Linked DNA regions of Homo sapiens: region 2 is linked to region 1. The links come from fine-mapping of genetic effects on gene expression. A gene starts in region 1. The other region holds a variant in brackets. All regions are shown on one strand. Distances are between the middles of the regions. Region 1 holds the start of EFNA5 (ephrin A5). Region 2 overlaps EFNA5 (ephrin A5).

What was found. PIP is the estimated chance that this variant, and not a neighbour inherited with it, causes the effect.
Region 2: its variant is fine-mapped to the expression of EFNA5 in whole blood (INTERVAL, PIP 0.93).

The regions. Positions count from the first base shown.
Region 1 is chr5:107,667,745-107,676,077 of GRCh38, forward strand. EFNA5 (ephrin A5) reads right to left here and starts at 3,193. Exons shown (of 5, transcript NM_001962.3): 1 at 2,745-3,193. The coding sequence starts at 2,869. RefSeq lists enhancers at 2,346-2,425, 2,826-2,955, 3,666-3,805, 5,546-6,045, 5,947-5,996 and silencers at 2,586-2,655, 3,226-3,275, 4,636-4,705, 6,077-6,156.
Region 2 is chr5:107,474,852-107,483,184 of GRCh38, forward strand. All of the region lies in intron 1 of EFNA5 (ephrin A5), which reads right to left. Among named protein-coding and RNA genes, the nearest start is that of EFNA5, 190 kb to the right of the region's middle. RefSeq lists an enhancer at 1-34. The variant T/C (reference allele first, on the strand shown) is at 3,538.

The sequences.
Region 1 (8,333 bases):
TTACTAGTTTAGCAAAATTTTAACAGATAGGTTCTATATAAAGACACAAAGCATGGCTAGCTTACTTTATGAAATAACATACAGGAAAAGGAATTGCACAACAGTGAATTTATAAAATTTACTAAACCCGTGGAAATTTTCTGAAATATTTTCTTACTATTGTTTGTGGAAAACTGTTAGTTTTTATTTTTAAAATACTTATTTGGCATGTGGCCTCTTATATCCAAGTTGACTTTTCTTAATGCATCAAAAGAGCAACATCTTATTCAACACTTCAGAGATAAAACTGCCTACTTTTAAAATATTGTTTTTAAAGTAAGTTTTTAACTGTGATAACATACCAAGATAAATGTGTCCATAAATTCCTAAGAATAATAAGTGTTAGGGCTGTATCTCTTGGGGTTAAGAGGGGTACATCATTCTTTCTTTTGGCCATTATCAAACTGATAATGATCAAATAGAAAGGTAATTCTACAAACCTGAAGTTAGAATACCGATTTAGAAATACTCTTGGTATTTTAAAATTCTGCAGATTAACTTTGTCTGGGCAGGTTCAAAGCCTCCATGGCATCCTGAGCAGAAGAGTTTTCTGCAGGCAGGGCAGATCTATTAAAAAACATGACCTGTGACAAAAATCAATGTGCTAATCTCAAACCAAACAACAGTATCAAAAGCACAAAACAGAGATAACCTAAGATAAAATGTCCTCAAACTAACTCAGACTAGCTTGACAGGTTAAGAAGGGGGGTTAAAGTAGGGGTGTTGCTGGTTCTTTCCGTTTTAACCCAGGAAGACTGGAACACCCAAGTATCCAAATAAATGAATGCCATGAGAAAAAGATCACAATGTGGAGCTTGGTGTGGGAAAGAAAAGACAACCGAGAGCAAGATATCCCAAATTCAAAGAAACTATTTCAGTGTTGCTTTATTTAATAAGGTGCTAAAGTTCAGAGATACAAATTTCTGCTTCGTATATGCTGCCTAATAAAGCACAAACGGGGAAAAAAAACTAACCAACATAATGAGACTGGCTTTTAACACCATCACAACTGGAAAGCTTGCTCTATTTGTCTTGTCAGCTTTAATAAAAGGCATCTCTCCTCTGGCAGGATGGCTTCTTTTTCTCTTTTCCTAATAGTGGTAAGTGGCATGTCAAAGAAGAAATCGCTTCCCATTCCACCACCCACCTCCAGGAGACTCTTGTTTTTTGAACCAAACTTTCAGGAATATCTCCACTCCTGTTCAGCGGTTCATTTAGGACTTGGGCGGCTACCTGAGTAAGACTATCTTGGACTAGCGGGATAGGGGGAACTCCCTCCTGGTTCTGTAACCGGCGGACTGCTTGTGGGGAAATCTTCCCATCTTCATCTGCGCTGACATTATTCAAGCAGGGAATCCCTCTCTTGCCTGCATGCTGAGGGGAGGCTGGAGGCAGGCGGAGAGGGCCCGCAGGAGATAGAAAAAACTGGAGGCGCCCACCGATACCCTCTCTCCTGGAGCCCGGGGCGCGCACCAACTCTTAGGCTAACCCCTCGGCCTCCCGCCTCTCTCTTCCCAACTTCCACTCCAGCCCAGTGAAAAACCTGTGACTTTAGATGCAATCGGTACTATTAATAAATAGCACCTAGGAGGGCACCGAGACCGGCACACAGCTGGAAGCTAGCCTCTGTCCCAGAGAAAGCAGTGCGGTATGGGCCTAGCGGGGCCGACTTCTGTGCACAGGCCGGGAAGCAATAAAGGTTCGGAACTGCTCCAGACCCGGAGGACCCCGCCGGGCACTCTGGATAACCTCCCCACTCCACTTCCAGGGTCCGAAAACACGGGACGTCTGCGACTGGCCGGTGTCCAGCACGCGCACTAGGACCGCCCCCGGCGCCCACCTCTAGTCTCCCGCATACCCGGCGGGCTTCGGGACGCCTACAAATCGGTTCCAGGTAATCGCGCGCGTTCCTCCGGCAGCACATCGCCAGGCCGCGGGCGAAGGGCTCCCACCTCCTGGCTCGGCCAACTCTGGCAGCTTGTTCTGCACACATGACGTAACCCGGCATTAGATCAAACTTTCTGGCACCTTGAACCCACTGGGGTGGGTGGAGGGATGGAGAAGATGGGAGAATCCTCTCCACTGCCAGGCGCGCCGGGCCCAGACTGACTCAGGGGCCGAATGATTTCCTCGCAGTTGAAGAGGAAAATAAAAACCTAAAGCTTCCGCTTCCCAGCCCCCCTCACTTCCCCCAGCCCGTGCGCTCTCTCTGCGCGCACCGGGAAAAGAGAAGGGAAAATTAAAATTAAAAAAAAAAAAAAAAAAAAAAAAACTTTGGGGGATGTTTGGCGGGTTCTCTCCGCAGTCCCTGCGGACCCACGCTCCAGGAAGGAGCTCCCGGCTGCGCACACTGGGGGCTCCCCGCGCCGGGAACCGGATGCCAGCCAGATGCCGGGGCTGGGAAGCAGAGAAGTCCCTACTCCCCGGCTCCCGCCCTTTTCCGAGTCTCCCGGCGCCCCGCAGAAGCAGTTGGTCTAGGCAGCCCCGGGGACTCCCAGGGGTACCTGGCCTTTCCGCGGCGGCTTAACAAAGAGGGGCGCGACGCGAGCGCTTCCCGCCGACGCCTCAAGCCATCAGCGCCCGGGCGACGCAGGCTCCGAGGGTGCGCGCCGCCAGCGGTTGGTGCGCGCCGATCCCCGCCGCCGCTCCTTCCGCAGGGCCCCGAGGCCCGGGTAGCCCTGGCTCTCCGCCTGTTATCGGCTTACCTGGGGTTGCTGCTGTTCCAGTAGACAGCGTAGCGGTCGGCGACGGCCTTGGAGCCCGGGTCCTGGCTGAACACACACATCCAGAGCACCAGAAACACCAGCGTCAACATCTCCACGTGCAACATCACGCCTGGCCAGCGGCGGAGCCCCCGACGCGCCACTCCGGGGAGAGAGCGGGGATCCGGAGGGAGGGAGGCAGGCAAAGGGACAGAGAGAGAGCGGGCGCCAAATAAATATGAATAAATAAAAATGAAAGTGGGCGAGAAAGGAAAGAGGCGCCCACCAAGCTGGGGAGGGGTAGGAGAGCGAGAAGAAAAGAAGGCGGTGGGATGGGGGGTGATAAAGACAAACTCGCACCCCCACTGGAGGGTTCAGGAGGAAAAAGGAATCACAAGATGGAGAGAAGCGTGCGTGTGTGTGGTGGCGGCGGCGAGGGCGGGGGAAGAGGTGCCAAGCTGTGTCTCGGGCGGCGGCGGCAGGCCGGTCACCCCGGGAGAGGGAGGTGCGCGCCGGGCCGGGCGGCTGCAGCGCGGGTCGGGGCAGGCGGCGGCGCGCGCTGCACAGTCACCGGGAGTTGCGCGCCGCAGCCGCGGGGAGACATACACCGGCCCGCCGGGCCCGGCTCAGCGTCGGCGCAGCAGGCTACGCACGGCTCCGCCACCGCCCGGGGCCCTCGCACTGCGCCACGCTTCGCTCCAAGTTACTTTGGCGGCCGGTGGGAAACTGCAGGAGAAGGGCGACGTGCTGATAGAGGGCTTCGCGCTTGTGGTCCCGGGAGTCTGAGAACCCCTTTCCTCAGCCTCCTCTGTGCCTTAGCGGGGCGACCCCCAGAAATCTCAGAGGAGTCGTAAGTGCTGCGGTACCGGGCGGTGCGCCGAGAAGGGTGGGGATCCGGAGCCGCAACCCAGCCTTGTCGGTGTCCTGGAACTGGTTAAGCGGCAGCTGCGCCGGCTTTCGAAGCGGTCTTGCCTCGAAAACCTCAAAGAAAAGTTTGGCTCTTCGCGTCTTCCGGCAGGTCCCCCAGCAGAGTCGGAACGCGGCGGTAGCGGAAGAGGGCACCCCGGGGGCTGGCCGAGCCTCGGGGATTTCTCGCGCGTGCTTTCCTTGGCTGGGTGTGGGTGCACCACAGTGAATGAAGAGCAGAGGTTAAGACCAGCCGGCCTGGCAGAGCTGGGATTCCTAAACCTGCAAGACGACGCCAACCCAACTGTTCGGCTGGAGAGCGGGAGGGGAAACAATCACTTTCAAATGGATCCCTCCAACTCCTGGATGGGCCGATGTCAGTCTCCGATCGCCTTCCGAGAGGGAGACTGAGCCCCCACACGCGGTGCCAAGAGCCCGGGGTGAGCTCTCAGAAGTGTCCCTGCGACTCCAGCGGGTCCAAGCCTAGCAACTTGTAGAGATGCATCAATCAGTTTGAAATGGGAAAAGAGGAAAAAAAAAAAGCGCACGAGCGAGTGGCACCTCCCCGATGACTACATCAGAAAACCTTCCCGATCCTCCCGCAGCTGCTCCTCTTTCCCTCCTTAGGCACAGCAGCAACAGAGGTGAAAACCACAAACCGAATCCTAAAACCCCTACCCAGGCGGGAAAATAAATAAACTTGAGTGCAGCAGCAGCAGCACGAGCAGCCCAGGAGGAATTGAAACGACTGGCAAGAAGTGGAAAGGGTTTTGTAAAAGTCAGTTTTGCAAAAGAGGGGGAAAAAAAGAGAGCGAGAGAAAAAATGCTTTATGGGAAAAAAAATCTCCTCGGGCACGCCCCCTCGTTAATGACTTGCGTGGAAAGCCGACAGCGGCGGCGACCCAGTGGCAGCAGCCTCAGCAGAGCGCGAGGCCGCACGCGTGAACGTGGACGTGGGCGGGGGGATGGGGCTCCGCCCGGGCGTGTTGCGCGGGACGCGGGACGGGCGGGCGGCGCGAGCGCGGGTGTGAGCTCCGGACGAAGCAGGGGGAGGTGCCGCCAGCCCGCGCCCAGCCAGCGCTGCTGCCGCTGCGGCCCGGGTCATGTGGACTGTCTTTTTTTTTTTTTTTTTTTTTTTCCTCCTTCCAAGCAGTTTACTTGGGAAGGGTGGGAGCGCGGTGGGGGGATAGCTGGAGCAACCAGTCAGGGAACGGCCTACTGTTTGCTTACAGATTGGGGGTTTTTCCTCTCTCTTTACTCCAACCGGATTGGTTTGCTCCACGAGAAAGAGGCGTTTTCCTAATCTCCCTTCCCCACGCCTCCTACCCCCTCCCCCGCCCCACCTTCTAGAAACCTGACTAATTGAATTACTGGGAGTGCCGAGGCGCCCTCTCCTGCGCCGGAGCCCGGCAGCCACGTGTAACCCTTTGGGTGCTGAATTCCGTCTGGGCTAAGGAATGATTTGACATCTTTTTACCTGGGAGTAGGGTCTTTCGATTTTAAAGGAACCTGTGCCCACCCTTTGGCTGGAGAGCCGGCATCTGTCTCTGGTGCCCCGCAGGTGACGGATGGGCTGGAACGGAGCCTCAGGGAGTGCGCGTTCCTGTCCATTCCACCCGCTCTCCACGCCGCACGCTGCCTGGCGCTGGGTTATCTGGAAGTCTGAGCACCCCTCCTGTGCCTTTCAGCCCTCCTCTTCCCACTTGGGATTTAAAGATTCTTGGGCAGGAAGCAAGTTTTCTTTAAAGTGATGCTCTGAAAACACGTTTTTAAAAATCAGGCAAATCACAGTTTAAAGTGATTACAATTCAGCGCGAACCTTCCACAGAGAGGAAATGAATGCGGCAGACGAGCCCTTCAGAAATAACCTCACACCTCTTCCATTTCAACCTTGAGGGTGATTTGCTGCCCACTCCCCAAAGAATAAACGCCTTTATCGAACCCGGTGCGGAAAGAAATGAGGGCCGGGGGCGGGGGCTGTGGGAAGAAAAGCAGTTCCTTTATTGTTGGAAAAGGCCCCTCGGTCCTGGACTTCAAGGGCAGGTTGCAAGCCTGGTCTTCAGCCGCCACTGAAGAGCGATCTCCTGGCAGCGAGACTGTCCCAGCGCCTCGGGACGCGTCCCCACTGTCGTCCAGCGCCCAGGAAGTGAGCCCGACGCCTGCTCTGCGGGGCCACAGGCCCCCGAGACCCGCCCTTAAGGGGTCCGCGGGCTCGGGAGCAGCGGTATTTTTTCTCATGTTCCCTAGGGAGTTTTCTGCCTTAGTGGGAAGGGCAGATCCCCAGGAGAAAAAAGGCAGTTTACTTTTGCTCCCACACCTGCCTGCACTCCTTTTTACTTATTAGCCCAATAAAATCAAATCTCACGTTCACCCTCCTGCGCTTTCCAGTCCTCAGACGGGATTTCCAGGCGCTTCAGAGCTGTTTAGAAGCGTCCAGACGCCCTCCAGTGGTGGGCCTGCAATCCGCACCCAGCAGGGGCATTGCCTGCCGCTCAGGCCGGGTTGAATTTGATGGGAAATCTAGGGCTATGACCAATAAAGACTCGAGAGGAAAAGAAACAGTTCATAGGGGCACGGAGGTACCTGGATGTTATGGGCTCTTGGCTAAAAGTTAAGTCGTTTTTCAATTACAGTAATATTTCCTATCTGAAAAGATCCTGAAATCGTCCTAGGAAAGTAACTTATATTTTGTGACTAGATACAAATTGCAATCTGTACAATAATGGACTTTACCACAAACCAACCATCTGCCTAATTATTAAAAATTGAAATTCAGAATGTCGACACAAATGCTCCTCCATCATCTGTATGTTTCACAAAGTTCCAGCAGTGAGAAAGAAGTGGGGAAAGAAGTGAGAGAACCAATGGATAAGCTTTTATTTTTCAAATCAAATTTTCAGTTAAAATGTTATTTGCTTTTTTCCCTGGTCTGTAATCTTGCTGATGTTCAAGTTCTTGGCCCATTTTAGGGTGTGTGTTTTTTCTGTTGCAGGAAAGATGGATTTGTTTCCTTAGCTTTTCTTATAGTGGCTCTAATAGGTGCTCATATGACAGAGACAGTTTTGCAGGAAATATTCTGGACCCTTTTAAGAGATATGTGTATCTTTAAAAAGAAAATTCACGACTCCTGTCTAGGGTAAAATGCTGATCCTCACTGAAGAGTCTTTTTAGTCAGGGAACTATCAGGTAACAGGGAGCTAGCAAGCTGGCTTCCTGTGGCATCAAAGCTGAAAAAAAGGTGAAGAAAAAGAAATGGTATCCACTCATTTCCCGTTTGAAACACATACAATAACCAAATGGGAAAATTCAATTATATCACAAAAATATGGATGTCCTTATATTTAAATATCTCTACTATTTAAAGTTTGAATAGTCCCATATTAAACAGAAAAAAAAGTATACATTGTCCTCTTCCATAAAGTGATTCATAAGATTGGAATAAGATGTTGAAATTCGCGGCTGTTCATAACATAACTCAAATGTCTATGTGAAACAATTCATAAACCTAAATCAAATGACTCTGGGATTATGTGCCTAAGTAATTATTGGTATGGAAGTTACTAGTCAGCAGGATGATAGATACAGTAAGTCCTTAATGTCAGGGATATGTTCTTGGAAATTGTGACTTTAAGCGAAGTGGCATATATAAGGAAAACAATTTCACCATAGGCTACTTGATACAAACAAGAGTTAAATTCCTATGCATATCTCCGGTCACAAAAACATCACCAAACTTCCAGATAAAGACCAAAACACTTCTAATGTTAAACATTGAAATAAATGTGAGCTAGACATACATTTGAGAAAGATTAATAAAAACAAGTAAGATCATGTAACCAATTTTTCCATTTCAGGATTGCAGGTGGCCGGAGTTCAGGGCTCAAGGAGGAAAGTAACCCTGGACAGGACACCCTTCTATCCTGGGGTGCACTCACACTCACACCCACACTCACGCATACTGAGAATATTTAGATATGTGCACAGCTTAGACACAACCTAGCGAGCACAGCTGTGGGTTGTAGGAGGAAACCAGAGTACCCGGAGAAAACCCACGCAGACATGAGGAGAATGTGCAAACTACTCACAGACAGTGGCCATGGCCTGGAATCGATTTTTTTTCTCATCACCATTATGACGAAGTGACGTTCAACCAAACAGCGTTGAGGACCTGCTGTACTTGAACAGAGTTTGAAGAGCTATATTATTAACTGTACACTTACCGTTAGATAATGTGACTTTGTCTCTTCAGGAAAGCATTCATGTGATTTAAATTTATACAAATCAACATTATATAAAATAATTTTATTATAATTCGCCCAGTGTCACAGAAGCAATGACTTTTAAACGACTTTAAATGCCCTTTAGAATGTAAGTATTTTGCCAGGTATAGGAGGAGGTGAACGTATAACAAAAAGAGAACAGCAAGAACCTAAAAACATGGGGACAAAAAAATGCAGACAGTGTTCAAACGCTTCGAGTTTGACAAGACAATGTTGTAGGGAGCTGAGACCTGAAAAAATAGGTTGGTAATGGACGATAAAAGGGCTTATCTGCAATTCTGTTTCCATTTAAAGCTATAGGCCACTGGGTGCGCTGGTGGGTTTAAAGCAAGTGCCATTGAAGCAATAATTTATATGCCCCAAATTAAAGCACAAATAGGAATTTATGCGTTTATTTAATTTTTGG
Region 2 (8,333 bases), 190 kb before region 1:
ATTCTAAGGGAAAGGACAATTATGTTGACTCATAACTGTCTAGGTTCCTACCATTCAAGGCCTATACAATTTACATAAAAATCATTGTCATTAGAAAAGTTTCTGTCCCACTGTTAAGACAGTGTTTGTGCAATGTGAGGTTACTTCCTGCTTCCACAATATGACTGTGCTTTACTAAACAAACTTCTGAGCTAAGATGTTTACTTGACTGGGAAATGACTACTAATAAGCTGTTAAAGGATGTATCCTCAAGTTACTACTTGTGGCATTTGTAACACGCTCCCTGTTGAACAAAGGTGTCACAGTAGCACAGTGAATAAACAATCCTTTTTTCTCCCTGTAAGTTATACGATATTAAATGTTAATAATTAATTTGTCTTTGTGGATTAACATACAAGAGCTTTTCAAACAGGTACTGGTGCAACCCCACCCTTGTGAGATGGCTAATCATTTCACATACTTCACACTTACCCAGCTATCAGTATCACTGACCTCAGCTAGCAAAGTGTGAAACGGCAGATGGTTTGTAGTGTTCAGTAATGTCCTATGAAAATGTAGCACAGAAAACTGCAAAAGGTTTTGGGAGAGAATGGTGGTTTATATGAACTTTTCAAGAAACTCAAGAGAAACAAAATGCCACCACTGTCCACGTCAAAGGATCTGGTGAGGATCCTGGGAGAAAAATGTCAAGAGATTCTAAGGCTTTCAGTAGCACAATATTTTCAAAGTGCTTCAGAAGTTATTTCAATCTGCTGCATTGCTAAAGGGGAACAGAGCCTGAAAAGCCAGTATAATTTTGAAGGCTGTTCAAGGACTATGTCAGCAACATTCTTACCCTGCATAAGACTTATACATCTTAAGACAGAAGATTTGTCTAGGGTATCCACAATCTGATTACATATTTCTCACGAGAACTACCCCAAAGTGCAAGCCCTTTGTGTTGTTCTACCTGAGATGACATGACTTCAGCCTCAAAATACCCAGGCTGAACTGTTTCTGGAGCAATGAGATGTTGTTAATGAATATCAACACTTCCCAGATCCTTTAAAAATGCTAATATCAAAATATTTTACAAGAGTGAATTTCAAACTGTGTTCATGTTTTTCACAGCACGGCACCTGTTTGAAATGGTACAGTTTGAACATCTATAAAACATGAGATGGAAGATACCAAGGTGGCTTGAGAGTTTTTAAACTATATATATATTTTTTTTTTTTGAGACAGAGTCTTGCTCTTGTTGCTCAGGCTGGAGTGTAATGGCGCGATCTCGGCTCACTGCAACCTCCGCCTCCCAAGTTCAAGCAATTCTCCTGCCTCAGCCTCCCGAGTAGCTGGGGTTACAGGCACCTGCCACCACGCCCAGCTAATTTTTTGTGTTTTTAGTAGAGATTCGGTTTCACAATGTTGGCCAGGCTGGTCTTGAACTCCTGACCTCAGGTGATCCACCCACCTCAGCCTCCCAAAGTGCTGGGATTACAGGAGTGAGCCACTGTGCCCAGTCAAGAACTATATTCTTGAGAGCAAAATAGAGTATATTATACTTAGAATGGAACTATGTAAACCTTTACACATCTGTATTTTCAAAACAAGAACCCAGAGCTGTTCAAGTGATAAACAAAATCATCAGGTGGCTTGTTTAGAGTTTCAAAACAGACCCTTCTATTCCTGCTGTTTCTCCCTCTGGTTTCATTAAATATAAAACAAATGAAAATGACCAGTTCAATAGGGATATCTGACAGAATTTGGGGAGAAACATTTCATTAGCTTTCTATGAAGTCCAATACCTGTAATTTTATGTATCAGGACTCTCTGATTTGAAGTCCCTACAGAAATGCTTTATTCTTAGTCCATTTAGCTGCCCTTAAAATGTTTATTTTTTCTCTTTCTCTCTCTCTCTCTCTCTCTCTCTCACAGGAACATCCAAACTGTGTTGTCACAGTGTATAAAACAGAGGCATATTCCTTTCAGGTTATACTATACCCTGACTCCTTGATGAAATGATTTGATGTGGTTCACAAATCAGAATCAGACAGAATGAAATCATTACACCTTATATAGCTTAAAAACAAAAAAGCCAGACATAAAGTGGACAGGAAATCAGTCATAATGAAAAACTATTTCAAGTCACACATTTGCTGATTTAGTGTCTATTTGCTGAGCATTTGTATCACTATGTGCTAGGTGCTGCTGGGTCTGTGACAATGAACAGGAAAGGCTGTGTGGCAACTCAACACGAAAGCCAGCTGAGCCTCCTAGTAACCAAAACAAAAAGAGAAACATCACACAGTTTCAAAAGGGAGGTTACTGGCTTATCAAGAGAGAAAAAAAATGTCTTGGTAAGAAGCTACGGAGAAACATAAGGAATAGGTCAATGTGTAGATAAGAGATACTAATCATAATATTAACATATAGATATTTATGTACCTATGTAAGACTTTCTCTTCCACTAAAACAGATGAAGTAATTTATAATCTTTTGAATTAAGCAATCAATAGAATAATATCTGCAGAAACTCTTATCTTTCTGGACTGTTTAAAGGTACAAATCTAGAACCAAAGTCGCATATGTGATTTAAAACAAGCAGAAAATACATATTGGCAAAGGGCTTTCTTACATGAGGTATTACTGCTCTAGAAAATTGTCTACATTAATTTATAACTGTAAAAGGATCTCTGGCAATTACATTTATCCTATTCTCTTATTTTTCAGGTGTCTTTTGGGGATACATGTTATAAATCTTTTTTATTTCTCTATATAACCCTTCTTTCTTTTGGGTAACCTGATAGTAATAACTAAGCCACAGGTGAAAGGTTTCTCAAGGTGTGGCTATTGTGTTCTCTTGACTAACTTCTACCTGCACTGTTTCCTTTTTACAGGGTGGCTCTTATGTGACTAATCTAGGCCACAATATATTATTTTTTTTAAGTTAGGTAAAAGTAAATGTCTCCAGACCTTTAACTATATAGTACTTTATTTGCTAAATTATGCAAATCAATATACCCTAAATCAAATACATACCTCCTCTAAAGAGAGTTCCCCTTGGTTTTGAAACTCACTTTAACAAGCTATCAATCAGAGGCTGATATTTAGAGGTAGCATAACTGATTGGTAGCAGTGGGATTTCTGGCCATTTTTAGTGATAACCACCGAAATACATGAGCAGGGTTTTTAAACCCTAGGAAGGAAAAAGCCTGACCAAAAACCCTGACAGATATATAATGCCATGATAGAAATGCTACTCATTATGTCATACCTAATAATCCACATGTACCTCATTACTCAGCTGTTTGTGTTACACCCTGTTGCCAAAGGAAGCTCCCTGCTTCTCCTCCTGATCCAGCAATTAATATGCATATCAGGCACAGTGGCCAGACTTCTACGGAGAAAGAGGAGGCAGGCAAGAGATCCATAGTCATAAAGACCTAGGCGAGTAATATTCTCAGCATTATTCAGGAATGTTTAGTTGCTTGCTCAAATTTATCATTAACAAAGGGCCTATTTCCCAAAGGCTTCCACTGTGTAATTAGCAACAACAAA[T/C]ACTGCCCCTACTCCGGTTAACCTATGGGATTAGTTACAAAGGTTTTGTAAATTTCAGAAGATATCTACACAGATGTCGGGAGAGCACACACGCAAACACACAGTGCAGCATAATGGATGCAGCCATAGCCATTAAGTAGTTTAGGATTTGTGAGACTCAGACAACGAATACATTTTATGGGGGAAGTCATAAAAGTCAGACAGGAAAAAATATACAGCATGAAAGTTGAAAACTTCTAGACAGCATGTAAAAAGTACGGAGAAGTAGCAGGGGCAAAGGAAGAAACGTACCAAGTGGAGCTCATTGGTCTTAATAAATAGGACAAGGTCACCTGAGTTTACTTCTGGAACCAATAGAAATCCTGTAGTATCTAATTATTTTTGTAAAATGATTATTTTCATGCTTCTATTTACCATTGTCATTAGATAGGTTCATATTTCATTAGTCTGCTTACTAAAATGAAACTTTTCGTTTTATTTATGGAAGTTTTTATACTTCTCTAAGCCTGCTCCAAAAACATACAATTAAGCACTGCTAACCTGTTGATCAGGAAAGTATACTATACCAAAAGAGATGCAAAGACATGTTAACCATTCATACTGATTGAAAGGGCTCAATTTAAGAAAGTAATTTTAATTTAGATTAAAAAATAATCTGTAAATGACAGAGTCTGGAATGACATTATGAATAAAAATTAAGGCTAATGACCTTATCTTAACCATAAATTACTTTAGTTTGTAGAGATTTGTTCACACTTGGTAAGCAGCACTGTTCATTTCTTATGATGGGTATTCGTGTTTAAACAAGTTGGCAATTTTCAATTCAGAAGTCAAAATACTGTCTTAGTTGCCAACAAAAATAATTAATGAAACACTTCTAACCCCAGGGGTAAATATGTAAGCAAGTGCATGGTAATGGATAATAAAAATAGCACTTCCTTTTACATATGGTGCTAATTAAAATCTGATCAGAGTAATAATTGAGCAGTGCCCAGGCTACCCTTGATTTTTCTTGTCAGGTTTCAATTGTTTGACACAAATGCACTGACCTCAATAAATGAAAACACATTTAAAAAAAAAAAACAACCTAAATTATAGCTATCCTTATTCAGGCCAACAAGTGATTTACTGTCGCTGTGGGTTTTGAGGTTACTCGAGACATGGAAGTTTTCTAGGGAGCCACTCATTGCCACTGGTGTTCATGAACAAGAAGGCACCAGAAAGTCCATGAGACTTTCATTCAGAGGTTTTTCCCCACTGAATACACAACTCCCTCCCTATGCAAATTCCAATTAAAACAAAAGAATAATATATTACCTAACCAGGGGTTGAATGAGTGTGTGACAGGCATTTTGCTAAGAGCTTTCCAGGTATTATCTCAAGTCTTCACAACATCCTGATGAAAAAGAATCATTACTGGTCCCATCACACTGACAAACTGAGTCTCAGACTCTGGCTCCAGAGCTCATGGTCTTAATTTGCTACACTATCTTAAAGTAATGGAAAAAATGCACACCAGTATATTTTAAAAAACTAAAAAAGGAAAGAAGATTCTGAGTACAATACTCGTACTCTCCGAAATTACCCTTTTTCAAAAAGAAAGATTAAATACCAAAACTCAATTGAAATCATACTGATTTAATTCTACAATGTGATGTCTAAAACCTCTAAGTACCTGCTTATATAAGTAAAAACAAGTCATGAGAAAATAAGAATAATACATATTTCCATGTCCCAAGTGCCCCACCAATATGCTTCATATTCACAAAGCTCTAGTTAAAATGGGAAAAGCCAACAGATTACTATTTTAATATGAATGCTTAATGAAATATATACTAATACTCACATTCAATTTTTCCATAAATCAATGTATTGCTAAAACAGTATACACTTTTATCCACTCAATAGTCATTACTTTTATTTAAAATTAAATTCAACTGTATTTTGTATCTACCTACAACTTCTTGCCCTGTGAAGGGGTACAAAGATGTATCAAAGATGCTCTCTGCTTCTAAGAAATTGTTTATTAACTGGCACAAGAAATAGCATCAACTATAATATCTGGTAGAGTGTAAAAAAGGGTAGAGTTCAAGTTCCTAAAAATGTTAATGCGCCAGGCTATACGTAAAGCGCTGGCCTAGGCACTATATGGATCAAGACTAAAGACACAGGCACTGTCCTCAGGAGCATTCTAGTGGAGAGGGGAGGTATCCAATACACCAATTACGTGAATACCTGGCTTCCTTTCTTAAGTGTATAAAAAGCAAATAAAGCCTTAAAGACTGCTTCACAGAGCTCTCCATGAGCAGGGCTGGGGATACACAGAAGCCAGGGAAAACAGATACAAGACTCTTGCAGTCAGCGGTCCCAGAAAGACAAAATGAGGGCTTGTCCAAAGGCCTTGTACTGGGAGTGAAGGCAAGTGGAAGGAACGAGCAATGGGGACAAACAGGTCTCAAAGGGTGGGTGACTGCCTAGAAATGAGCAGAAGGAGAACTTGGAAATAACAGGTCTGAACAAAGAGACAGCTTTATATGACAGAATAAATAAGAAGTATGTTAGGTAGACAAGAGAAATAGATGTGGTCACTGACTTGTGGAGCCTGAGGAGCTGGCAGGGGACATTCAGCATAAATTTACTGAGCTCCTATTACATAGCAGGCACTGTTCTAGGATCCAGAGGTACAAGAGTGAACAAAACAAACTAAGAGGTGTGCAGCAAGCAACAGGGTAAAGTTAGACTCTCCTGCTGACAGGCAAAAGCCAGAAATACAGACTGAGAAGTGTCAACTGCAAATGAGAAAAACCCTCGGTTCTCCTGTATTCAGGAGAGTTTCAAGAAGAGAGAAGAGAGGCTACAACACTGAATACAGGAGTGAGTTGGGGAAACAATCTGGCTGGATGAGAACTGAACTTAACCGATTTGACATTTCTGTGACTGTTGAGATGGCCTTCTCCATCGCACTGGGCCAGGATCCAGCAGGAGGAGATCACAGCAAGTGTGCCTTTGAGAAGTTTGTTATTAAAATGAAATAAAGGATGGTATTTTGATACATAGTTCTCTGAGAATACAGAGAAAGTAGTGATTCATTCTGACCAGGAGATCTGGGAATGCTGATGGTTGGCAGTGAGGATGTCCTCTGTTTTTGAACAATAAATGCAGGAAAAGAAACTGAAAAGAATGCCAGGTATGGTGGCTCATGCCTGTAATCCCAGCACTTTCGGAGGCCAAGGTGGGTGGATCACAAGGTCAGAGTTAGAGACCAGCCTGGCCAACATGGTGAAACCGTGTCTCTGCTAAAGATAACACAAATTAGTTGGGTGTGGTGGCACACACCTGTAATCCCTGCTACTCAGGATGCTGAAGTAGGAGAATCACTTGAACCCGGGAGGCAGAGGTTGCAGTGAGCTGAGATCACCCCATTGCACTGCAGCCTGGGTGGTAGAGCGAGACTCCATCTCAAAAAAAAAAAAAAGAAAAGAAATGGAAAAGGGATGATAGAGAGTCAGGGTTACAATAAGGTCTCATTACAATACAGCTTTAAACATTAGAAAACAAACACTGTCTTGTGTAATCATACACTTCTAAGTTAGACATATTTCTGAACAAGATAAAATGTGCTACATAAAAATAAATGCTGGCTGGGCGTAGTGGCTCATGCCTATAATCCCAGCACTTTGGGATGCTGAGGCAGGTGGATCACTTGAGGTCAGGAGTTTAAGACCAGCCTGGGCAACATAGGGAAACCCTTACTAAAAATACAAAAAATTAGCCAGGTGTGGTAGCATGCGCCTGTGGTCCCAGTTATTGGAGAGGTTGAGGTGGGAAAATCACTTAAGCCTGGGAGACAGAGGTTGCAGTGAGCCGAGGTCGTGCCACTGTACTCCAGCCTGGGTGACAAAATGAGTTGATCTTGTCTCAAAAAAAAAAAAAATGCTATTTTTGTTTAAATTAGGCAAATATACTTATCTGTTATTTAAGACTAAAAACCTGATTTCTTGGTCCTCCATCTAGAAAATAGTCTGTTTTAAGACAAGGAAATAGTTCTTGTTTAAACTAGAGAATGAGAAGTCTGTCAGACACATGGCCCCACTCTTGCTCCAAGTCCTTCTCACCTATTCTCAGATAAGACCCAGATCTTGGGAAACAAATTAAGGGCGCATCTGCTGGATTGGACCTAGCTGCACTGGGAGTTGCCAGAGTGCTCTGAGCAGCATCAGGAATTCCTCTGGGCCTTGTCGTGATATCATTTGCGCAATGTAGCCTGTGATGGCAGAAAATTAAGCTGGTATTTATACAGGGTATTAGAGAAGGACCCTCCCTGCACCAGGCTTAAAGTGACAAAATGTCAGCCTCAATCATCCCACAGGCTTTGGTCTCCCTCTGTAACCTCTTTCTTTTTGGCTGCTCTCTCTCTCTCTCTCTGTCTCTCTCTCTGTCTCTGTCTCTCTCTCTCTCTCTCTCTCTCTCTCTCTCTCTCTCTATATATATATATATATATATATACATACATATATACACATACACACACACACACATACATATGACACTAACAGAAAAATAAATTGAAAAGAGCACTGAGGCAGAGTGTATTTCACGCACTGGTGCCAATGTTTCATATCTCATGAACCTCGGGAAAACAATTCGTAGAACTAATTAGTTTACAGTGTTTAAGCAGCTTGTTCCTCGTCTTTAATCTTCTTTATGTAATAGTGTGAACAAAGCCATATTATCTTCTGATTTTTTTATACAGTTTAACAAATATAATCTCCCTTTTCTTTCCAGAGATTACTTCA